5 separate regions of the Homo sapiens genome follow, and regions 1, 2, 3 and 5 are each linked to region 4. Evidence: fine-mapped expression QTL. A gene starts in region 4. Each other region holds a variant in brackets. All regions are shown on one strand. Distances are between the middles of the regions.

The links. PIP is the estimated chance that this variant, and not a neighbour inherited with it, causes the effect.
Region 1: its variant is fine-mapped to the expression of DOCK9 in blood mononuclear cells (TOPMed, PIP 0.96).
Region 2: its variant is fine-mapped to the expression of DOCK9 in whole blood (INTERVAL, PIP above 0.99).
Region 3: its variant is fine-mapped to the expression of DOCK9 in whole blood (INTERVAL, PIP above 0.99).
Region 5: its variant is fine-mapped to the expression of DOCK9 in whole blood (INTERVAL, PIP above 0.99).

Annotation. Positions count from the first base shown.
Region 1 is chr13:98,843,805-98,848,804 of GRCh38, reverse strand. It overlaps DOCK9 (dedicator of cytokinesis 9), which reads left to right. Exons shown (of 53, transcript NM_001366683.2): 37 at 166-213; 38 at 2,745-2,881. Among named protein-coding and RNA genes, the nearest start is that of DOCK9-AS1, 14 kb to the right of the region's middle. The variant TA/A (reference allele first, on the strand shown) is at 2,375.
Region 2 is chr13:98,896,634-98,901,633 of GRCh38, reverse strand. It overlaps DOCK9 (dedicator of cytokinesis 9), which reads left to right. Exons shown (of 53, transcript NM_001366683.2): 14 at 3,373-3,455; 15 at 4,024-4,146. Among named protein-coding and RNA genes, the nearest start is that of DOCK9-AS1, 67 kb to the right of the region's middle. The variant T/AT (reference allele first, on the strand shown) is at 2,582.
Region 3 is chr13:99,085,900-99,091,108 of GRCh38, reverse strand. It overlaps DOCK9-DT (DOCK9 divergent transcript), which reads right to left and starts at 4,386. Exons shown (of 1, transcript NR_047482.1): 1 at 2,484-4,386. It also overlaps a transcript of DOCK9 not described here. RefSeq lists enhancers at 2,701-3,260, 3,823-4,384 and silencers at 3,265-3,494, 4,075-4,134, 4,225-4,534, 4,575-5,054. The variant ACACACACT/T (reference allele first, on the strand shown) is at 2,409.
Region 4 is chr13:98,975,537-98,980,536 of GRCh38, reverse strand. It overlaps DOCK9 (dedicator of cytokinesis 9), which reads left to right and starts at 2,473. Exons shown (of 53, transcript NM_001366683.2): 1 at 2,473-2,753. The coding sequence starts at 2,628.
Region 5 is chr13:99,045,365-99,050,364 of GRCh38, reverse strand. It overlaps a transcript of DOCK9 not described here. Among named protein-coding and RNA genes, the nearest start is that of DOCK9-DT, 39 kb to the left of the region's middle. The variant AG/G (reference allele first, on the strand shown) is at 2,847.

The sequences.
Region 1 (5,000 bases), 130 kb after region 4:
CACTTTCCAGAGGACTCCCAAAAACCATTCTGAATGAATGAGGATGTGACTTATGCTGGTACTAGACATAATGTTTATTGAATTTGTTATTGTTAACAGATAAATAACGTCCCGAAAATAATTTTATCTTTGCATTTCCCTAATAATTTTTCATCTTGCCTGCAGAGTCTGCCTGCACCAGTTCCAGTACATGGGGAAGCGATACATAGCCAGGTACTGTGGGGCGTTTTCATTCGAAACGTGTTGTTTTCTGTGATGCCTGGCTCTGATTGTGTGGGATTGGTCATCAGTGGCGGTTGGCAGTTGGGGTTCATGGAAGCGGCCATGGGGACTGATGGCAGGCCCTTGGATTGCCACCGCAGAGCCTGGCAGTGTCTTTGGTCTGCATTCCTACCGGCGAAGTCTCATTTCACCTCACGTGTTATCTCTTGGAAAGCATTCCTTTAGCGGGCTGTGTCTACCCTTCCATCCTCTCGTCCAAACTCCCCCTCCTTCTCTGTTCTGTCTCCTTCCCATCCTCTTCTCCCCAGTTCTTCTTCCTATGTTCCTTCCTCAGTGGTTTCTCTTCCTCTGTTTGACTTTCCAAGGTCATTTTGACTGTTCCTGCTCCCAACTACAAAGATACTAAAATCTCACCTAACCACTCTTCTTCTTTCTTAATGAAAGAATGTTTTCAGTCCATCCCAAATTTGTGTGGACTTCCACAAACCTTCTCTAAAATGGAGCCTTTTCTCTTCCTACTCTTGACTAGTTGGTAAACGCTCCATGTTCTTGGCCAGAACTCCCTGGTGAGTAGCGTCACTCCCACTTTCCTGTGCAGAACCAGCCTCCTAGAAACTCCTTGCAGCTGTGTGGCTGGACACGCCTTCTTTGGGGGCGTTTCTTCGCAGCACCTCTTGTCCTTACCAAGTTCTTCCTCCTGCCCCACTGCCATTCAGATTGTCTGTTTGTTTTTTTCTGTGTTGTGAGCCATTCTGTGTTATTGTATTAGTGGGGTCTTGGTCTAAGTATTATATTTTTTTACTGTTGTTTTTAACAGCTTTATTATAAGTAAACATGTTTTAAGAAAAACTTAAAAATGTAATTGTCATTGAGGTTTGTTTCTCTATATATCGACAATTTTGTCTTATAGTGATGAAATAGGCCAGAGATTTTTAGTAGACTTCCTCTTTGTGAAGATTTTCTTTTTCTGTTAACATTGTTCTTTTCTGGGGATATTTGAGAAATTTTCAGAATTACATTTTATGTTAAGAAGTAAACATGTATGTTTTCTTTTTAAAAGAAGCAAATTTAGAATTTTTGCATTTTCCTCCTATTAATATTTTCTATTTTTCATTGAAATGTGGTAGCACTTAAAGTTCTCTAATCTTAACTGTTTTATTTTTTATCACAACAGTAATTTTATATTTGAGTTTTGGAGTACTAAATGCAAGTATATACAAGGTGTCCTTATACCAGCAACGTCTTCTACCTTGACTTGGATTCTCCCTGACTTTGTCCCATGAAGATGGGCAAACAGTAAATTCTGTCACAGAAAGGCACTGTGCTGGGCTAGCTTCACTTTTTGCAGTGACACCTACGTCACAAGATGGCATTTGGAGAATATTGTGCCAAGTAGAATAAAATGCCTCACAGCTTAAAACAGTGAATGTGAGAAGCTGAAGATTTCTGTCCCAACAAAATGTTTTAGAATCGGGTTTTGTGAAATGGTTAACGTATTTTTTTCAGTGGATATAAATTTAACTTCTTAAAAGAAAATCTTCCTACTTCATAAGCACCCTGTATATATTTGCATATAAAAGTGTGGACTGCCTTAAAAATAGATGGGCCAAGGAAAACAGGAGTGGAGATGATGTGACTTTGCTCCATGCACTGTGGAAAGATATGCTCTGCTCTATACAAAAATTGCCATGGTTCTCTGCTGCATGTGAAAAAGATCCTGAACTAGACTGTGAACCTTGTACATGTTTGCCATCCACGGTGGTCGAGTTTGATGAACACTGTGCCTTCTTATTGTCACTTTGAAGTCACCCAGCAGCATGCAGTCGATGATAGTCCATGCATGTCCCTGTTCTCCTACACACAATAACACAGTGAGGGGGACGGTTGGCTCCGGGACAGGGGACAGGTGTCATTGCAGCCCTGGTCTCATTTTCATCTGCTCTGGTGATGGTACACAGCAGGAAGTTAGCTGTTTGATTGCTAACCCAAATCACTCTTCTGTTTTCTCTACTTGACTGCTGACAAGTTTAACAAAGTGTGTGGCTCTTCTCCTTCCTGCTTGGGTAAGAATAAAGGTGTTAAAACTCATATAATCCCTTCCTTTGCATGTTTGTTCTCTGTGTCTTCCAATGCATTTTTTAATTAAAAAAAA[TA/A]CATGTCTTTTGCTTTTTCAGAACATATATAATCCAAAAAGATTAGTGACGTTTTGACAGTCGTCAGAACACTAACCATTAGTACTGCATTGGAGTGATGCTCACTTTTTTCAGAGTAGCATCTCTAAAGTACTTTCTAAAAATAAAAAGGTCCCTGCTTTGGCCTGATTTTTGCTTCTGGATCATCAGGTGCTTTGCCGTGAAGTGTGCAGGAGCTGCCGCCTGTCTGTGTCTCTGGCTGCTCCACTGTGTTCAGTCAGTGCATGGCCATCTCCCTCGTGCCATGTTCTGGCTTCACTAACACTCCCCGTCTCGCTGCAGTGTAACACGTCTAACTTTTGCTTCTATCCCATTTCACTCATGTTGCAGGAACCAGGAGGGGTTGGGACCCATAGTTCATGATCGAAAGTCTCAGACATTGCCTGTTTCCCGTAACAGAACAGGAATGATGCATGCCAGATTGCAGCAGCTGGGCAGCCTGGATAACTCTCTCACTTTTAACCACAGTAAGTCCCATGACATGCCATCGTAACAGCCAGCCATCTCATGTGCCATCTCAGAGGGGAGAGCCCTAGGCCACACCTACCACATCACCAACTCAATTTTTCTTCTAGCTCAAAGCAAGTAGGATGAAGAGCTCATGGCACAGTTCCCTTCCTTGGAGGAGCGTCCTCAGCATTTGGGAGTGACACAATGTGGAACGTGCTCAACTACAGCACTAAACCTAAAAGTGCCTGACCCTTTCTGCATCCCTAAAACAAAACTCGGCTGGGTCCATAGCCAGCCGTTCTCAAGAATTCTAAACATAAAATTTGGATTCATCACCTAGAACCGACTTAATGTTGGCTTTCCCCTGCAACTCTGAGAACATTCGGGATGGATTTCTTTCACCCCTTCTGATCCTGTGCATGTAATTGATCAAGCGTCCACATTCTGACATTCCAGCTCTGAATGGATGTTAATCCTTGCACTACTGTGAAAACATAAAGCCCATGAATCAATTTGTGAGGGTGTGGAAAAGCATCCAATAACAAAGTGACTTTTTCTGTGTTTTCAGTGTGAGAAAGATATCAAGTGTGCTTGGAATTTCTGTAGACAATGGTAAGATTTAATCAGGTTGAAGTCTGCTTTATGAGGTTGCTTCACTTGCAAGCCAAGACCCTTTTTGTTCATCTTGCCTTCCTAACTTTGGGGCTTTCTAACTTTACAAAAGAGATTCTGCCAGAACAGGGGAGCATATTTTTAATTTACTTTTATCAGTCAGCAGAGGGGACAAGGCATTGTGTGCTGTTTCTAGTAATTTAAGTGCTTTATCTTCTTAAGGGTTTCTCAAAGCAGAACACCTGAAAGATATCAACCATACAGCACGTGAAAAATTGATGAGATCATTTATAATACCCATTTCTGCTAGCATTGTGTTCTCTAAATTGTTCCATCTCTTCTCCAAGCATGACACAGCTAGTTATTGTTTTATCTCAACAATTATTTGTTATTCCAAGTGCTGTCTTTAATACATGGTTATTAATATCCTTCCATCATGTCTAATAATAAATTCCATTCGCTGTGATTTTTCACACCTCTTTTTAAAATACAGGCCAACAGTAAAGGCAGTGTTCCCAATGCATTGTATTAATAATAGTTCAAAGTAAGACACCTGAGGAACCAAAACAAAGCAGCTTCCCACACCTCTGACCCAGCAACGTGGGCATTATGAAGATTGTCCGGGTGCAGTTTAAGTGTTATGAAGATTGGCTGGGCATGGTGGCTCATGCCTGTAATCCCAACACTTTGGGAGGCCAAGCTGCTGGTGGCCAAGCAGCAGGTGGATCACTTGAGACCAGGAGTTCGAGACCAGCCTGGCCAACATGGTGAAACCCCGTCTCTACTAAAAATACAAAAACTAGTCAGGCTTATTGGCACACACATGTAATCCCAGCTACTGGGGAGGCTGAGACATGAAATCACTTGAACCTGGGGGGCTGAGGTTGCAGTGAGCTAAGACTGTGCCACTGCACTCCAGCCTGGGTGACAGAACAAGACCCTATCTCAAAAAAAAAATAAAAAAAATAAAAAATGTTATGAAGATAGTCTGTCTTGATAAAATCCCAGGCTTAATTTAGATAATGTCAGTCTGCCACACGGAGTTGGTAGCCATAAAATGCTACTTCTGAGTTCTACACTTAGCTGTAGAATGCAAATTGAGTGACACCTTTAAGGCTACAGTACTTGATTTTTTAACATCTTTTCTGTTGGGGCTTTGACTAGTTCTGCAGAAAGGGATTGGAACAAAACCAGGAGTTTGTTATTTTTAGTTTTTCTTTGCCATTTAGCAGCAGAAATTCAATCCCCACTGATAAACAGAACCTGCTGGACCTCCTTTGCTCAGATAATTTCTATAACACAGAGGTTAACTCACTATTGGTTGAAATAAATGCTTAAACTTTGAAGCACTTTTTAAAAAATCATAAGTACACCAGTGCTGCACCTCCAATGATAATCATTTAGGAAACACAGAAAACAAAAATTAAATGAATGGTCCACATGTGAATAAATAACCTTAATCCACTCGGATATGCAGCAGCTCTTCCCACTGCAAATGGGTTTTGTGGTGGTAACTTGAATTGG
Region 2 (5,000 bases), 79 kb after region 4:
AACTTTATGTCTTGATTTTGAAGGAAATGTAGTCCTATGTGTAAATAAAATGATCCACTTGACTAGACAGTTCTGACATCCTAAAATAATTTGCAAAGGAATTACCAGCTTAATAGTAAACTTTCTGTGTTAGAAGGTACATGTATGATATTCAAATAGAGTTTCTTCTATCTGTTAATTTGCCTCTTGGGTTCTGAAATTCTATTTTGGTCCACTTACACTTATATATGAGGCTGGAGACCAGGAGATGCCCTTGGCTCAGATGACCTGGCCAGCAGTGTCAGTGATTCAGGTCCACTTGGTTTTTGCTAGAAGGGGCAGAGTTTTAGGTGGAAGATGGAAAGAAAACATACATGATGTATGTTTGGTTTTTTTCAAAGTAGTGTTCATTACTTGGGAAGTGCCTAGGCATGGACATACCATAGAATTATTAAATATTAGAGGTCATCTAGTCCAAGATGTGCTTTCATATTTCAGGACACTGAGGCTCACCAAGGCTTAGTGATCTGCTCAGTGTCTCATGGCTGGAGCTGCCAGGGGGCACTTGACTGCCACTTCGTAGCACCTTGTGCTACCTGGTTAGTGTAATCTGTTAAGTGCTATTATCCTTGCCAGTTTTACATATTTTTAGTTATTTAAAAAAAAAATTGTGTGGTCATCTGAGAGGCCTGAATTCACTGACAAGGACTGGTCAGCAGTAGGAGTGGATACCCCAGAGGCTGTGAGTGAAGTTTACTAAGTTGGATTCAGAGCTTCCTATCTTCACCTCTATGGGCGCCCATGCATCACAGCTGTGTCCACAGGATGCACGATGGCCATTGAGAAATGGATTTTGGAGTCAGAAGACCTGGGTGCTGCATGCTTAACTCATCTGGGTCCTTTGGACAAATCACATCACCTCTCATGGCCTCCATATGTTCCTTCTGTGCATGAAGGATGATGTTACTTCTTGCCTCTGCCTTCCTCATAGGGACAGTGTTAGGATCAAACAGATCATGTATGAGTCAGTGCTGTGGGCACCATAAATCACAGAAAGCCCAGAAGACATCGTCATTTATTACAGCCCCAGTCAAGTAAAAGCCCATTTACCCAGGCACATTGGTTCCAACAGTAAGCCTTTTTGGCTGATGAAAGCTGTGTAAAGTTTGGTCTCTGGAGAGAAGCTGTTTTATTTTTTTAAACCAAGTCTGTAAAACCTTGGATGAGAAGCTCTTTTAGCTCTTTTATGTTTTGATCAATAATCAATGAAGGCCCAATATAAGATCTCCTCCCCCGACCGTGTATGCAACACATTTCCAAGGCCCATCCACAGCAACTTTGTTACTTCTGCCTGCCGCATGCATGGTTTGAAATTTGGCAGCTCATATTGGTGTAAAAATCACATATCACTGTAGGCTAAACTTACCTCTGCACACTCCTCCATGTCCACTGAGCATCTGCTGAAGTCTGCTTTTTCTTCATTTTTTTATGGAATGTAAAGCTCATCCATGTGTACATTATTCATGCATTTACTTTTCTGCCACCTCCAAAGCATTCAATTAAAGCAGGAATTAAGGCTCAACTATCTTACTTTAGCACAGTTTTGGCAGAGATGTTACAGTGAGATGATTTTTTTCTGTCTGTCAAAGTTGTTTCTTCATGTTTTCCAAGATGGTCTAGAACATCATTTAGAGTAAATTTTCATTTTGGAGGAAATTTTTATGAAAAGTCTCTGTAGGTATCTCCTGTGAATAGAGGTTTTAAAAAGAAAAAGAAGGGGAAAAAAGCCCAAAGGGAAAAAATAAGTTTCTTACTCTGACTTTCACACATACTGTGTTCTATTTGCTCCCTTCATATGTCCGAGAGCTAAGTCCTCATTCACTGCAGAAAAGGCTTATTGATGTTTTATGTTTTAGCTTTAAATTTTATGAAATTACTGCATTTTACTCCACAACATATTCATCATTGTTAGAACCAAAAAATCTTGAACCTGAAAATGTTTAAGTAAATTGACCCTGCAGCTAGGTAGGCCATTGTACCCTATAACTCATACACCTAAGACCCCACTAAGTCGCCCCACCCAGGGAGGCAAGAACATACCTCATTGGAGAAGGGGGGAGGTCCTAGATGATTCCCTGACATCTCTTCCAATTAGGATGTATTTTCCAGGTTACTCATGAAGGCAGCAGTTCCTACAGCATGATTATGGTAGGATTATAAAGTTTTGCAACTGAAAGGGATCATGAAAAGTATAGCCTAGCCCCCATTTTCAGGTGTGGATAGTGGAGCTCAGAGAGGTTTGATGGCCTACAGAGTCATACAGCTGGATTCAGTGTGACTTAGAGACAGACAGCTCTGTCATCTAGATCCTTCTGGATCCTTCTAGATCCTTCCTGTGGCTGATGGTACACACAGATCACCGGAGGTCTTGTCAGAACGCACGTTCTGATCCAGGAAGTTTGGGGCAAGGCCTGAGACTCTGCATTTCTACAGTGATGCTGATGCTATAGCACACTTTGGTTTTGGAGTACATTTCCCAAAATTGGTTTGACTTTGATATACTTATGTAAAAGACCCTTCAGTAAAAAAAAAAAAAAAAAAA[T/AT]TAAGTAATGTAAAAGACCCTTCACTGTAACTCTGAGACAATCAAACTTTGCATTGATGACAAAGCACTATCACAGTACAGACAAATTTGGAAAAATTAAGCATTATCTTTTTTAGCAATAGGGGTATAGATGATTAATAATAGGTCTGCCTTAGGCTAAAAGCAAATAAGCTTCATTGTACACTGTGAATTAATCAATCAATCAACAACAAACCAAAATTGATCATTAGGAAGTAGAAATAGCAGTAATTCATGTTTAGAAAGCAAGAATATAGCATTGAGAACCCCAGCCTAACTGAAGTCAGTATCTTAATATCTTATCCCTTATATTGTGGGAATCAGCATAAGCTAGTGCGCTTTAGGAGCTGTGAAAGCTTAGTATTTTAATTAGTGTTCTCATTTCAATCCTAATAATGTGATATATTTTGATATGGATACCAAATAGTAATTATTAATAACTCAGTAGACTTATAATAAGTAGCACTTAGTCATAAAGATGTATGAAAACCTCTGAAACAGCATGTTTGTTGCCCGTAAAGACCAAAGAAGAGACATGGATTTTGGAAAGTCTTCGTTCTGTATTCTTTGAGAATCACTGCTAGAGAATGCGTTAAATAAAGTACTCTGCACAGAGTGTGAATCCAGCCATATTCATTACTGTATGATGTGCTTTTCTATGCATCCAATGCTATGGTAAGGACTTATTTAGTGAGCATGTAAGGATGGCTCTTGAGGTCACAGTTCTTTCAGTGAGATGCAGTATCTCATAGCTTTATTCTCATGTCTTCAAGGTGGCCCAGAAGGTGCTGAAGAATGCCAAGCAGGCATGCCAAAGACTAGGACAGTATAGAATGCCATTTGCTTGGGCAGCAAGGTAAGGAACACCTTTTATACCTTTTAAATCGATATAGATAGGTGCATGGATGGGTCAATAGGCCTATTCTGTTTGTTGTTCAGAGACAAAGAGGATTTGAATGTGTAAAACTGAGAAATACATAAGCCCAGATTTTGAAAAAATCATTTGGTAGAGTCACAGAGAGGATAGACACTGTCTGGAGAAGTGCTACCTGGAACTGGCAGGGTGCACGGTAGTGTTAGCTGCAGAGCTGGGATTCAAGGACCCAACCACATGCCTCCAGCTGGAAGTCAGGGCAATCCAGTGAGGCCTGGGGTGATCTTTATCTCTTGACTCTACTTGTTAAGCATTTGACTTGTGTATATTGTTTCCTAAGCACAAGCCATTGGCTGGAACTGTTTTCTATGTAAATTGATTTAGTTGTCCTCATCCCCATAGATGTTTTCCATGTTTTTAGATAATGAGATTTCTGTTGGCTATAGCCAATGGAATAATAATTAGACTTCTCATAGAAACTAGACTTAAATAATGAATTGATTTTGGTGTTTTGGAAACCCAGTTTAGAAATGTTGCTTTGCCATTTCAGGACATTGTTTAAGGATGCATCTGGAAATCTTGACAAAAATGCCAGATTTTCTGCCATCTACAGGCAAGACAGCAATAAGCTATCCAATGATGACATGCTCAAGTTACTTGCAGACTTTCGGAAGTGAGTTTCAAGGTCTTATTTCCACACCTGAAAAATAGAAGCTGTGTAGTGGGGAGGGAGGAACAGGGGAGCAGTCACTTAGGTTGCTCGATTTAGACATCAGAGGGGATGGCAAATGAGCGTGAAGCATTTCCTCAAACCCTTGAGAAGAAAGATGGGGTGAAAATCAGAAGAATAACCAGTTAATTTGAATTCTGTAGAGGATGTTTTGGGTGGTGCTGTGAAGGGTGGACTGGGTAAGGATGAGCCTATGGTGGGGAGGAAACAGTTGAGGAACCTTGTCAAGAGGTGAGAAAGGACTCAGCAAAGCCACTGCAAGTGCAAACAGGAAGAAGGGGACAAATTCAAGTCGTGCCAAAGAGATACGATGACTGGGTCTTGGCTTGGGGTGGTAATAGTCTAAGATAAATAACTTGCAAGGTTTCTAACTTGGAAGTTTCTGGCACCAGTTGTTGCTTAGCTTGTGGCAGCATTGCTCCACTCTGCCTCTGGCCTCACATGGTCCTCTTCCTGTGTGTCTCTGTCTAAATTCCCTTCTTAGAACACTAGTGATAAAGCATCAGGGCCAAGCCTAGTGACCTCATCTTAACTGATTGCATCTGCAGAGACCCTGTTTCCAAATAGGTCACATTTATAGGTACAAAGGGTTGGGACTTCACCATGCTTTTGGAGGACACAATTCAACCCATAACAATGAGGCAAAGAGGGAGCAAGGAATGTGTGCAACATCACAGGGCCGGCAGCTTCCCCAAGTCAGTCTCACCCGAGGGTCTGTGTTCTTAACCTCTATGCTGTTTTGCTGCTACATCCTAAAGAGTTCACTCTGAACCTTTGAAACTGATTTTCTTTGCTAG
Region 3 (5,209 bases), 110 kb before region 4:
GAAGTTTGATACCAGCCTGGGCAACATAGTGAGACCCTGTATCAACAAATAGTAAAAAAAATTAGGTGGGCGTGGTGGCATGCACCTGTCCTCTGAGCTACTTGGCAGGGTGAGGTGGGAGGATTGCTTGAGCCCAGGAGTTCAAGGCTGCAGCGAGCTATGATGGCACCACTGCTCTCCTTCCTGGACAACAGAGCAATAATCTGTCTCAAAATAAATAAATAAATAAAATTCAATCAGTGCAAGGATAAAATAAAGAACGAAAGTCCCCTTTCACACTTCCCTGTGACAGTGCACAGGAGTGCCTCCTTTTTATGGGTCACTTGTTATTTTTGCTAAAAACAGATATACTCTTTCAAGATATATCCAGAAAAGATTTTAAACTAATTATATGTTATTAAGACACATACAAATCCTAAAGCAAACTTAACAAGGAAATGATGTAGTAAGAGGTTATCATTAAACATGAGTAATGCTTGAATTATAAATTTGGGTGTAGTACAGTCATTTACATGCAAATTTCAGAACTGGCTGCAATTATATTTCATCTCCACTACCTACTAGTATAATTTTCAACAGAAAGAAAAGCTTTCTTCCTATAGTTTGGAAAAACAAAGATGAGGTTACTCCATCAAGCTAATGTAGGTGGATGTATCTTCTACCGTACCTGAGACACCATCCACCCAGTCCAGCCAGAGGTCAGCCTCATCCCAGGTAGCCAGGTAGCACCCTCTTTTGGGCTGATGCTCTGCCCCTCTGTAGGTATGACTGCTCTCCAGGAAATAGTGATGCCAAAAGAATTCACACAATTCCAGGCCCACTCTGGTGGAAATTTTAAAAATAGCCTTTGGCCAGCATGTTGGTTTCCCAGGACTGCTGTAAAAGTTCCACAAACTTAAAACAACAGAATTTCTTCTGTCACTGTTCTAGAGGCTAGAATTCTGAAGTCAAGGTGTCAGCAGGCCATGCTCCCTCTGATGACTTTAGGGAAGAATCCTTCCTTGCCTCTTCCAGTTTCTGGTGGTTCCCAGTGATCCTTGCTGTTCTGTGGCTTGCAGGTGTGCAGTATTCTCCTTCCTACCTTTGTTGTCACATAGTATTTTTCCTTTGTGTATGTATTTGTGTCTCTTCTTATAAAGACACCATTCAGGCTGGGCGTGGTGGCTCACGCCTGTAATCCCAGCACCTTGGGAGGCTGAGATGGGCGGATCACCTGAGGTCAGGAGTTCGACCTGACCTCAGCCTGGCCAACATGGCAAAACCCCTTCTCTACTAAAAATACAAAAAATTAGCCAGGTGTGGTGACAGGTGCCTGTAATCCCAGCCTCCTGGGAGGCAGAGGCTGCAGTGAGCTGAGACTGCACCACAGCACTCCAGCCTGGGCAACAGAGTGAGGCTCTGTCAAAACAAACAAACAAACAAACAAACAAACAACCATTCATACTGAATTAGGGCCCACCTATTCCAGTAGGACCTCACCTTAAGTTGGTTACATGTGCAAAGACCTATTTCCAATAAGGCCACATTCACAGGTACTGGGTTTGGAACTTCAATATATCTTTTGGGGGACTACAATTCAACCCAGAACAGTAGGGACCAAGTTTCTGCTGAAACTTTAACACTAGGAATGTCCCATTTGTTATCAACAGCACTTCACCAGGAAGAAGAGGCTCCACTCTGGGTTGCTGGGTCCATCTTCCTGGGCTTAGTTCACGTTTCCATGCCGCCTTGTCTGTCAGAACCTGTGCTTGGTTAGACATTGCCAGTGACTACTGTTGGCACATTGTCTGTTGTTCTCTGCTTCCTAAATGAAAATCTGCCAATTCTAGAATATACTGAATCAGCAAGTAAGTACAGAATTTAGGAGTGGTAGAGATATGGATAAAATTGGTAGGTTTGGGGAATTCTTCACTTTCCAGATATACATATATTTAAATAAAATTTATGGTAGGTCATTGTCTTGGACTGAGCTCCTGAACTAGGCCCCAACAGACCAGACTAAAATGAAGCCACTGTGTTAGGTGCCACGTAACTAAACAGAGATTTTAAAAAACAGGAAAATCCCCAAAAGGGCCAGTTTTCCAAAAACCAGGAGATTCACAGCAACCAGTCAAACGGGGCCCAGTCAGCCTGAGCCAGCTAAGGCAGCCCCCTCTGCTTTAACCCATAAAGGAGAGTAACCTGAAGTTACCCGATGTGCTTTCGGCACTATGCTTTTCCCTTGTTCCTGCTTAAGTTACCTTAACAAAACCCAGCTGTTCTTCCATTCCCACAAGAGCTCCCGTCTATTTTGTAGTCAGAATGCTGCCTGGTTCATGCATTGCTAATAGAAGCCAATTAGATCTTTAAAACCATTTGTTGAAATTTTGTTCTTTAGACTACACACACACACACACACACACACACAC[ACACACACT/T]CTACTGTAATCATATAGCTCTTAAAAAAAGAAAAGAAAAAAGAATATAAAACCCTACAACCTTAGGTGCTTTTGTTGTTGTTTTTAATTTAAAAAGACAAAATTGTTCGCCTTGTATAGAAGTAGATACAGCTTAGAGAGCCAAGGTAACAAGAGGGGAAAAGTTTGTGTTGTCTGGTACTTTTGAGGGAGTCAGAAGCCTAAAGGGAGGCTCTAACTCATGATTCTCAGAAGACAACTGTTGTCAACAGTTCAAATGAGAACTGAACGGCCACACTCCTGCAGCTGAAAGGAGTCAATGCGAGCTGAGTTGCTCTCACCGAACAGAGTGCGTTCCCCGGGGAGGCAGGGAAAGGCCGGCTTGCACCTGCTCTGTCACCCAGCTCCACTCTTAGGACAGAAGAGGTCTGGAAAATGTCTGGGCCATTCCCTCATTTCACGGAGGAGGAAATGGGTTAGTGTGTAATTGTTTTTATCATCACCCTTGTTTTATCTTTCAATCTGCCAGGCTCACTCAATGCTACATCCTGCAGTCCCCACCCACTGGAGAAACAATCCGATCCTGCAAGTAATTATTGAGTGCGGACGGCATACCTCACCTCCAGACCTGCCCATTAAACCCAGAACGGAGGTGTTTTGCTCTCTGCGCTAGATCGGTATTTTCCCCTACCACTTTAAGATTACGCTTCAGGCCAGTGTTAGGCTTTCTGGTGGGGTGGGACGCAACAGGCGGCCTCCTCCACCGCAGCGATGGCGGCTATGAAACCTCTGGGTATTTGGGCGGGAGGCGCGGCAGGTATTCTCCCAAAACTGGGTTTTCAAGACCACCACTCTCTGCGGAGGCCGACCCGGCAGGTAAGGAACTGTCCATCGGAAGGCAACGGGCGTGGCGTGAGCAGCCCGACCAATCAGCAGAGCCGCCGTTCAGTCAGGCTCCCCGCCCGGGGTACCCGCCCAGTCCCCAACCACTGAGCATGCGCCGCGGGCCTGGCGCAAATCCCCGCCTGGCGCGCCCTCTCCGCGGCCCTGTGAGGGTTAGGCTGCGCCGGGCTTCCTCAGAGAGACAGAAACGGAGCCGGGGCGGGAGCGGGCCCTTAGGGACAGGAAAGCGGTTAGGGTATTGGGGGGAAAGTCCCTCACAGGGTGGCTGTCGCTAGCGGCCGCCAGCTCTGCGTCACGGTGGGCTCGCAAGCCGGCGCATCGCAGTTTCCCTGGTACCCCGCCTGGCGGTCCGGCGCGGAGGGGCGGCAGACCGGCTAAATCGGCCCCAGTGAGGGCCGCCGTGTCACCTGAGCCCCTTCCAGGCCGTTGTCCTCAGGTTACAGGCGACATAACCGAGGCTCCGAAGTATTGCCCACGTCCAAGGTGACGCAGCTGGCCGTCCCGGCGGGCCGGAGTCTGGGAGTCTCCCACGCCTGGCCCGGCCCAACCGTCATCGTCCCGCCGCGAGCTCCGTGCCTCCGGGGACTGAACGGTGGGGAGGCCGAGGCGCCACACGAGCGCGCGGCGCCCCGCGCCAGGTTCCGAGCAGGGACGCTCCGTCCAGGTCCGCCTGGCCGGCCGCGGGTTCCGATCGGTGCCACATAAATAAAGGCTACTTTCCTGAGACCTCTGTCCCCGCAGAGGCCCCGGGCGCAGAGGGGGGGCGTGGTGCACCGAGCTCCGACCCTGCCGGTGACTTCGGGGTCCCCTCGAGCGCAGCCGGGCTCCCTGGGCAGGAAACCCTGCTCCGAAACCGCGCATCGTCCAGCCTCGGCTGTGCGCCCTCTTGGTGGCGTGCGCAGTCCCCTCCTCCGGTCTTCGGACGTGCGGCCCGGGGCGGAGGCGGCCCCGACCCCCCACCTTCCCCAGTGAGGGTCCCGCGCGGCACGCCGCCCCTGCCAGTCCGGCCGCCTAGCTCCAGCGCCGGGCCGCGCCGACCTGCCTGGCCCGCCGTCCCGCCGCGGCGGCCCCTCCTCCGCCGTCCGGGCGCCCCGCCCCGCCCGCGCCGCGCCGGACACCCCGCCCCGAGGAGGCGGCCCGGCGAGTGGTCGCCGAGGGAGGCTGGTGGCATGGGGGAGCCGCCGCCGCCACACGCACGGTCGCCCGGAGCGAGCCCGGGCGCTGCTGCGATCGCGGGGGGCCGCGGACGCCGAGGGGGGCGCCTTGGGGCGTGACACGGTGCAGAGGGCGCGGCCTGGGCTGCGGCGGCCGGACTCGCGGCGAGCAGCGGGGGGAGCAGGCGGCGGCGGCGCCGGGAGCGGCGGGCGGAGCGGGCCGGGCGCCGAGGGCGCACCTGGCGGCCGCGCGGCCGGGCCGGGCCGCGGGAGCAGGCGGAGGCGGAGGCGGCGGGGGCAGGAGGATGTCGCAGCCGCCGCTGCTCCCCGCCTCGGCGGAGACTCGGAAGTTCACCCGGGCGCTGAGTAAGCCGGGCACGGCGGCCGAGCTGCGGCAGAGCGTGTCTGAGGTGGTGCGCGGCTCCGTGCTCCTGGTGAGTGCGGGACGACCGCGGGCCGGGGGAGGATGGCGGGGGCGCAGGCAGCTGCGGGCCCCGGGCCGGGCGCCTCTTAGTCGGCAGGGCTGAGGCAGAGCGGCCGACCCTGCTGGGTCCGCGGAATCAAGAGGTGGGGCCGGCGGGAGGGAGTTGGACAGGGGAGAAGAGAAGGTCCTGGAGGGGCTGCAACTCCCAGACCCCTCCCCGCCACCCAAGATCCTGTCCCCATCGCTGTCCCCTTCCTCCTGGGAAATTTCCGCAGAGTGATGTCGCCCTGTCACTCTTTTCACCCCGCTCTCTCCCAATTTACCTGCTTTCTG
Region 4 (5,000 bases):
AAAGCCAGATGCTGCTGTCTTTAATTGCTGACTGGTGATTGGTATTGTGCCTTTTAGCAGTTTGAACATAGTATCATGGTTAAGCGTGTGTACACTGGATCCATATTGCCCCTGCTCTCTGTATAACGTTCTGCAAGTATTTAACGTCTCTGGGCATCAGTTTCCTCATCTGTCAAATGAGGATAACAGTATTACATAGAGTTATGAAGATTAAATAAACAATCTTTGTAGGGCTTGAACAGGCATGGGCCATAGCCAGCACTTACAGTGTTTGTCAAATAAATATCTTAAAGTTCATTTCTCATTCCTTACAGAATACCAGGGTATTTTGACCCAACAAATAGGGTAGGCTGAACACAGTGGCTCACACCTCTAGTTCCTGCTACTTGAGGGGCTTAGGCAGGAAGATCCTTGACTCCAGGAGGTCAAGACTGCAGTGAGCCATGATCGAGCCCCTGCACTCAGCCTGGACTACAGAGCAAGACCCTGTCTCAAACAACAACAATAACAAATAGAATAGCATTTCTCTTATTAATGCCCAGACATTCTGATGGCTTAATGGCGATGGGGATTTGAGGAAGAACTGGACTATTTAGAACTTCCTGAACCATCTCAAAAAGGTTTCTGAGTTGTTGGTTGGGCTGTCCTTTACTAAGGCTCAGTTAGTCTGTTTTGTGCTTGTGGCTTCATCCTTTCTTTGATTTGTAGGACATTCCTAAGTTTTTACTTTACTATAATTTCGACTCTATAGGTAAGTGAGAGTTTTTTCTTACTGGGTTTTTTCTGTTGTAACTTTACAAAGAAAGATTTTTAAAATTTATAGATAATATTATTTTGGAACACAGATTTGGTAGGGGGACTTCTATTAACCCTGAAAGACTACCCAAGGTTGAGAGATTGGGTAGTTTAAAAAAAATTATAGAAGCCATTAATTTATTTGATGGACTCATTGATCCTTTGAGATCGTTACATAATTGATATTCACACTCAGAAGGGTTCCTGGTGTTCAAGTGGCAGAGACCCAGCTTCAGCTTCACTCTTGAAGTAGAGCAGCTGCAGCAGGTGCTAGGAGAGGGAGGCGGCTGTGCGAGGACTGGGTGGCATCTCAGTTCTCCCCACTGCCTCCTCTGAGCCCTCCTGGCTGCGTTCCTTTGTCTGGAAAGTGGGAGACTTTTACCTGTGACTTGTATAATAGTTTATGTTATTTCCCTGGGTAGAGTTCCTCTGGCACCTATTGTTGCTACATGATAACTACTCTCGTTGTTGACTGACTGAATACTGCTGCTGCTGCTGCCGCCGCTGCTGCTACTACTACTACTACTACTACTACTACTACTACTACTACTACTACTACTATTGCTGCTGCTACTGCTGTTACTGCTACTGCTACGGCTGCTGCTGCTGCTGCTGCTTGTTGTCTACTGTTACTAAATCTTCCCTGATGTCCAGGAAATACTCAGAGTAACTAGGAAAAGCTCTGCGGTATCCATGAAGTACAGAGTAATATTTGATCCCCCCTTTAATGTTCATTTCTACATAACTTTTAGACAAATCCCTTAATACCTCTGTTTTAATTTTTCCCAAGAGGTAAAAAAGACTCCACTGTTAAATGTGAGGAAATAATAAAAATACAGACTTTTAGGAACACATATTTTGGGTGCTACTAAACCACCATTGAACCGTAGGTTGGTGATCCAGCTATTTTCCCGTGCTTTTGTGCATCTCTCTCTTAATTTTATTAATTTGTCATTTATGATGTCTGCTCTTCTTGCCTTCCCAGCTAGATGTGAAGTTCTTTGAAGGGAGAGATACTCTACCTTATACTTTTAGTATGATCCTCTCAGCACCTAGTACTGGGGGTACCTTCTGATACCCACACATCTGGACTTAAAGTAATATTCTGTTTAATAAATGCATTTACTATGATATGTGGTATCCCATGAAAATGTTTTGATGACCTCATCTTTCTGGCATCAAATAGTACATAAATTAAGTGTTTCATGCTGTGGTCTGTCATGCGGGGTGAAACTCATTTCCTCCACCTGTATCCACGAGGTGCAGGCTATGGGAACATACTTGCTGGTAGCTCTTCCCTGCTTTAATCATCAGCCAGGCATTTGGTTTTTAACCATAACACAAATGAAAGCATTCCAAAACTGGAAGAATTTTAGAACAAGCAGACAACCTTGCTGTCTCTTAAGCTCCACGAGCTTCAGATTTAAGGTAATTATGAAGGAGTCTAACTGTGACTGGTTTTCTTTTAAACACTGCAGTATTTTGATTCCGATTGATTTGGCCCACGCTGTGTGGAACAGACACAATAAAGCCGGTCTTTATCAGAGAGGCAGTACACTGTGTATTGTTCAGCTTGGAGTTTGTTTTCCTTTGGCCAGCAAGTAGGAGCCTCCCCTTTTGCATGGAGTAGTAACACCCCTGGAGGCTGGCCTTTGCTGTCATGCCTTCCCACCCCACAGGCTCTGCAGACCCAGCCAGCGGGGCTGACCACTTGTGCCTGGGAAGCCAGTTTCCTTTCCTTCCTTGGACCACTGGCATGCCTGTGCCTTGCACGGCCAGGGACTCGCAGCTGTTCCAGTTGCAGACTTTCTGACTTGCGTTTTCAGCCGAGAATGCAGGCTGATAAATGCAGGACAAGTAGTAGAAGTGTCAAAAAGGAACTGGTGATTGAGTCCCCCCTGCAATACAAGGATGCAGCTCAGGGCGAAGTGGAAGCAGAGAGCCCGGGCCCTGTGCCGGTAAGAGGGTCTCGTACAAAGTGTTGCTGTGTCTACCCAATGCTGGGTTCTTATTGTGCGTGTGGACGGGGTTGACGCCTGTTGCCTGTCTTTGATTTCAAAACTTGCTCTGCTTGTCCCTTGTGAACTCCACTCTTTCCCTGTAATATGACTTCGATTCCCCTTTGATTCTTCTTTGTGAAGAAAGAAATGTTGACATTTTGTGGGTGAATATGGTTTCTGGGAGGTTTCTTTGTATGGGACAATTATGTATTGTTCACAATTATGTCCCACCTAGCTGCAGTGTTTGCAAATGTAAACCCAGGAAGCATATTTTAATTGCAACTATAGGGTTGAAAAAAGATGTGCTTTGCAAAATTAAAACCTTTTCTACGTTATTTATGCTATTGAGAAAATGAGGCAGGTCCCATTGGGGGTTTTAAGGAACATAACTGTTGGAAATATTACATAGTTTAGAAAGGATAAAATCACATATGTTCTTCTCACTCATTTTACCAGGAGGTTTGCCTTGAATAAAGTAGGGAAGAACCTAAACTGTGAACCAGCTGATAGAAACGTTTCTGTTCTTAACATCAGCTAAACTCTCAGCATTTGTCTAAAGCCAAGTGCTTTGGTGGACTTTGGAGGGGAGGAATGTGAAAAATGGTTGTGTTGTTATCATCAGTGAGTAGGTTGTGCTTCTCTCGGAATTTCTTCAGTACAATAAAGGCACATAATTTTTTAAGCAAGCTGCACAAAACCACCAACATGCCCTGCAGAGGGGGGACAATTGAGCCTTTCAAATTATCTGCTAAAGAGATTGTTAAACTGATATGTAGTGATTTTATTTAGTGATTTTTTTTTTTCTTTAACGTGGAGGTTCAGTTGATGTTACCATGAAGTGTTTGCTTACTAATTTACTTAATTTTCAATTAATGTCTAAGAATCTGAACTTAAACTTTCCTATAACAGATTTGATTTGAACTGAGTTGCTTTCTTTGTGACTCGTGAGACTGCCCTATATTTTATTGCCTTCAAAACTATATTGCTAACCCTGAACTGAAAAGTTAGTAAAATATCATGGTCTTTTTCACTGCAGATTTTCATCTTAGAGATTTAGGTTTCTTTTCTTCACCCTCTGCTACATTGTTTAGAAATGTAATTCATTGTTCTGGATTCCTTGCTGCCAATATAATAGCCCACTTCTCTGTTGGGTTGCTCACAGGCTGTATGGATTTCACTGCTTAAAGCAGCTGATGTAACTTAGGATTTCTTGGAGGAAGTTGTGTGGTTTAGGTTCCCTTGTGAATATTCTTAAAAATCTTCTGTCAGTGATTCTCCAGCTGTGTAGAAATATTTGTCTACAGGACTGAATACACTGTAGAAAGATGCTATGCAATTTTTTTTTTTTAAGCACACAAGTGACTTCTTAAACTTACTTCTCTTTCTAGTGCTCAAGAAATTTGCCATTTATGTCCTAGCTATTTGTTTAGGTAAATCTCACTCCAGGCAGTTCCTCTGGGGGTCTTTTTCCACTGCAATGGATAAAGCTGTGCTGGCTACAGCTGCATTTGGTGGGAACACTTGTCAGGGCCCAGCAGCTTGTGGCAGTGTGATCTCAGCTCTGCGCACCTGCAGAGAGGGGTGAGGGAGTGAGGAAGCCAACAGTGATACCAGAAGTTTTTTCTTATCGGGCAGTGTTTCTCTTCTTCCAGCAGGGTAAACAAGATAAGAAGAGCTAATGTCAGATCAGGGAAGCAAGGATATTTCAGCAGGGCCTTTGCCGAGGGCAGATCTCTTACCTGTGGCTGTTGCTGCCCACTGGCAAACAAGAGTTCAACAGACTGCTGGAAAGGCAACTTGTTTCTCAAGATGATTTTTCAGAAGGAGGCAGACACCATTGTGCAACCTGTTTGTGGCAGTACTATTCATTGTTCGAATGTCAGTGGCCCACGGGCTTGGTAAGAATCCCCAAGACTGTCTATCATTTGAATGCATTATACCTAGAGACGTTTAAATGTAGGTAACATGCTTTATTCAGGAGGTAGCATTTTGAAATAAAGTTTTGCTGTTTTTAGTTATGTACAGAAACAGTCCTTGGGGAAAAATATTACATAAATTAAAACGGATAAAATTAATTAATGCGTGTAGTATAGAAGTAGGAAAAACAAGAAATGCAAATAGTGTAGCAGTAGGAAAGACAGTGTCCTTGTTTTTACTCTCCAGTGGTGACCATTATTAATAATTCAGTGTATATACTTCCAGACT
Region 5 (5,000 bases), 70 kb before region 4:
CTGTTTGTAGCTGATTCAGGTTTCGCTGTCTCGGATATTTCCATTCGTGTATCACTGCAAGGGGAAGTGGTTTTGCTTTTTTTTTCTCCTACAGGCCTGAAATATGGAATGAACTCTAGGTACTTGATTTTAATTAAAGCATTACCAAAGTGTTATTTTTGCTCTGTGACATAGATAAACTACACATGCTATGTGTCTTTCCATTTTTGATTTGTTTTTACTTGCTGTCCATGGCTTGAAATTTTAGACAGGATCCAACATGCAAGCAGGTGTCATCTTACATGTTGAAACCTAAATATCCTCCATAAACTTTGATAGCTCCATAGGTTATTTTCAGTATTTTCACATATCATATTTCAATTTTTTAAATCTATAGCATAATTGCTTCTTGTATTTTTAGATGTCATGAAGATGTTGGCCTAGGAGAGAACCTGCAGCATTCATTATCTGGAAAGATCAATCATTTCCTAATGAAATCCAGTTTTGTATGTTAGGGATCATTATCTGATAATACAGTATGTGTCCTGCTTTCAAAAATTTAGCTATTGGCTGGGTGTGGTTGCTCATTCCTGTAATCCCAACACTTTAGGAGACTGAGGTGGGAGTATCTTTTGAGTCCAGGAGTTCAAGACCAGCCTGGGCAACATGGTGAAACCCTGTCTCTACAAAAAAATTGTAGAAAATTAGCTGAACGCTGTGGCGCACACCTGTGGTCCCAGCTATGTGGGTGGGAGGCAGGAGAATCACTTGAGCCTAGAGGTTGAGGCTGCAGCGAGCCATGATTGTGCTTTTGCACTCCAGCCTGGGTAACAGAGCAAGACCCTGTTTAAAAAAAAAAATTTCAGCTGTTACATCAGTAGCCTTTAACACACTCCCTCAGTCCAGATTTGTCTTTTTCTTTTCTTTTCTTTTCCTTTTTTTGTAGCTGGGACTACAGGCGTTTGCCACCATGCCCAGCTAGAGTTGTCTTTTTCTAAGATGTCCTTACTCCATGGCCACACCATGCCTCCCGATGACAAGGCTGACCACACTGCCCCTGTCCAAGGAGCAGCCTTCAGCATTGCCTGCTACCTCCTTTTGGCCAGATATTCTGAGGTTGGAAGGTGAGGGGTGATAAGGTATGTGGATTCAGAAGTACTGTAAACATACTCAGATGAACAGTATTACCATTTAAGAATTTTCATTTCACAGTTGGGTTTCATCTCCAAAATTCTTGAGTAATGAGAGAATTGAGTAAGGGTAGTCATTGATGATTCTGTTGGGTCCAGAAAACAGAGTGATTGATTGAAGTCTGTACAATGCCAAAACATATTTTTAACTATTCATTTTCTTTCCATTCTTAGCCATACAGAAAATAACCAAACAAAAAATTAAACACGAACTCCACAGTCAGACTTATTCAGCTGTTTATTATTATTATATTCATTATTTGTACTTAGCTATGATTATTCAGCTTATTAAGCTTTGCTGTTTATTAGTAGCAGAGCTTAATGTCAGGGATTTGAATTTCGCTTTTTGGTGTGAAGTCTTTACCTAACAAAGTGGGAAGTCCCGAGCAGTGGTCAGTGATGGAATAATAAAGGTACAAGTATATTAGTGCTTACAGTTACAAAGAGAACTGTAGAGAATGAGAAATAGTGGCACTGTGAGGATGGGAGTGTTGCATGTGAGCTGTCCCCATTTGTCATAGCAGAAAGTCAGTTGAAAATATTTGGAAAGGATAAAATTGAGAAATCTGTATGTTACAGTTATGGGGGCAGCAGGAGGAGAGCAAACACTGGAAGAAGCACCAAAATATGGAAGGGAATTGCCTCCGAGGAGCAGGGCTGGGAGTGGAGTGGGTGAGCCAGGCCACCCTTGCTTTCCGTGATAAGCCCTATTATTGTATTTTTAGTTATGTGCTTGTTACGTTAATGAACACTGATGAACACAGAGCATGCATTATTCAAAATTCCTTCTTATTTTCTTTTCTAGAGTAGGGACAAATAAGAGTGATGAGAAGATGAGCAGTAGCAGAGGGGAATGGTAACTGGGGAAGCTCCGCTGGGGTGCACGCAGGCTGTCTCCAGGTTGGCTGTCTTCAGGCGTGCTTCTTACTCCAAAACTGGAAACTTGGTGAAAATCCTGCTGTTGGCTTTGAGCCGGCAGAAACAAAACAAAACAAAACAAAACAGATAAAACTGTAAACCAAGAAGCAGCACATGAACACTTTTAAACACCGTATGAAGATTTTCCATAACTTTAAAATACAATGGAATATGTTCTCAGTGAGAACTGTCATCGGACATCAGTGTTTGATTCGTGATTTTGCTGACATTGAGGTCCCTGGTGCTGCCCCCAAACTGGAGGCCTGCCCAGGGTGAAACTTTGTGTCAGAGCCCAGGATTTGACTCCTAGGAGCTCTGCTGTTGGGTATTATACAGGAGGGCAGGAATTGAGTTGTAAAAGGCCAGTGAAAGGGAGGGAGAACAATACATTGAGTTTGTATCCAGGGACACTTTCCTGGAAAGGTGGTTGCTTGAGGCTGATGCTTCAAGATTAGGGCCAGGCGCAGTAGCTCCTGCCTGTAATCCCAGCACTTTGGGAGGCCGAGGTGGGTGGATCGCCTGAAGTCAGGAGTTCAAGACCGGCCTGGCTAACATGGTGAAACCCCGTCTCTACTAAAAATTAAAAAAAAAATTAGCTGGGCATAGTGGTGTGCACCTGTAGTCCCAGCTACTCAGGAGGCTGAGGCAGGAGAATGGCTTGAAGGTGGGAGGCAGAGGTTACAGAGAGCCAGGATGGCACCACTGCACTCCAGCCTAGGCGACTGGGCGAGACTCCGTCTCAAAAAAAAAAAAAAAAAA[AG/G]GATTAGAACCACTGATTCTCAGAAAAAGTTTGACTTTCATTATTTTCAGACAACACCTAAGGAGTGAAAATAAATGAGACTAAGAAGATGTTCTTAGGCCCCAGAATGTTTAAAAGTAGAAAGACAATTTCCTTATTCTAACCTGGGGACCCTGATGGTAACAGACGTGCTTATGTGCTGCGATGGCAGCTGATACTCCTCAGCCTGTGGTTCTCTGCCCCATCCAGAGAGAGCCTGAATCTATACACAGAAAAGGCTGTGTTTCTGAGGAAATAAAAAATATGTACTTTTAAAATTTTCTAAATAGGCCCTACTTCTAGGGTCAGCTGGCGTGTATTTCAATTAGCACATTATCTTGGGAAACTTTACCATGAGGAAAAGTTTACTCATAGGCTTGGCCATTTTTATTTATTTGACCCCCATGAATAGTCCAACATAGCCACCAAAAATTGCACAGATGTCAGTGGCTGTTTGGCCGTGTTTTAAATAAATATTTTGTCTTTTAATCATCAGAGATAGGAGATTAAACCTGGACTCGTCCAACTTTGGCTCTCTTCACGCTCATCCTTATGGGAGAGGAAGTGTCAAGATGGGCTTTCCTTTGGAGCATAACCTAAACAGGAACCTTTTAAAAACCTATCCAAAGCTACACTTTGTACCTTAAACGCAGGCATGAAGTATGAGACATTTCTGGTGATGTCTTCAGGAGGATTAAGAGGTCAGGAGTTAGATGTAAGAATGAAAGTAAAGTAAGTGATAGATCTAGGCAGAGAAAGATGTTGACATCTGAGCTTATACTCTGAATAAAACAGGTTTCCAGGCTGTGTGTGTTTATTTTACACCCATGCACTTACACACAGTATGTGATAACACAGCAGTGATTCACAGTGGCTCTTCAAGGCCCCTCATCTGTGAGTCCTGGACTTTCCTGTCAGGTGTGCCCCCTCATAACCAGGCATGTTCTATGAGGTGTTTACTGTCGAGACAAGTCCCACAAGTTGGGCAACCCTTTAAGTGCTGTTTTCCGGAGCGCAGCTAAGGAGGTTAGCATACTGGGCGCAAAATCCTTCCTCCTTTTGAAAACCTCAAAACCAACAAACTACTTCCTCTGTTAATCTCATGGGTGAGTGGCAAAGCCCAGGCCAAGCCCTTGGTTGTGCAATGTGTTATGGCCCTGGAGTTAAGGATCCTCCTACTCAAAGCAGGAGGGCATCATTCCAGCAAAACCTGTTGGTGTGCGTCCCACCTTCCAAGTGAAGATATGCCAGGTGGGAGGTCGCTCGGCTTGTTCTGCCCCGTGCTGAGCCTGGGCTCAGTGTTGGGACATACATTTCTGCCTTTTCTGTCGTTGCTTAAGATATTTCCTGGTTGTCTTGTGAATTCTAGACACAGTGATGCTGGTTTTTTTTTTTTTTTGAGACTGAGTCTCACTCTGTCACCCAGGCTGGAGTGCAGTGGCACAATCTCAGCTTACTGTAAGCTCCGCCTCCCGGGTTCACGCCATTCTCCTGCCTCAGTCTCCTGAGTAGCTGGGACTACAGGCACGTGCCATCAAACCCGGCTAATTTTTTTTTTTTTTTGTATTTTTAGTAGAGATGGGGATTCACCGTGTTAGCCAGAATAGTCTCAATCTCCTGACCTCATGATCCGCCCGCCTCAGCCTCTCAAAGTGCTGGGATTACAGGTGTGAGCCACCGCACCCGGCTGCTGTTTTTTTTGTTTTGTTTTGTTTTGTTTTTAAAAAGATGATTAAGCTGGTGAGGCATCTCTTTTTATATATGCATTTTTTGACAAAAATTCCGTATATTTAGGGTATACAACATGATGTTTTAAAATTGGAATGGTTCAATCAAGCTAAGTAACATGCAATACTTCACATACTTAACATTTTCTGTGGTGAGAACTCAGTTCTACTCTCAGCTATTTATTTACTGTAGTCACCATGTTTATACTGTATTCCCCCTAGCTAACTGAAATTTTGTATCTTTTTACCAACATCTCTCCAAACCCCACCCCCAGCCCCTGGTAACCACCATTCTACTCTCTACTTCTGTAAGTTTGACTTTTTTAGAGTCTACATCTAAGTGAGGTCATGTAGTATTAGCCTTTCTTTGCCTGGCTTACTTCATTTAACATGATGTCCTCTATGTTC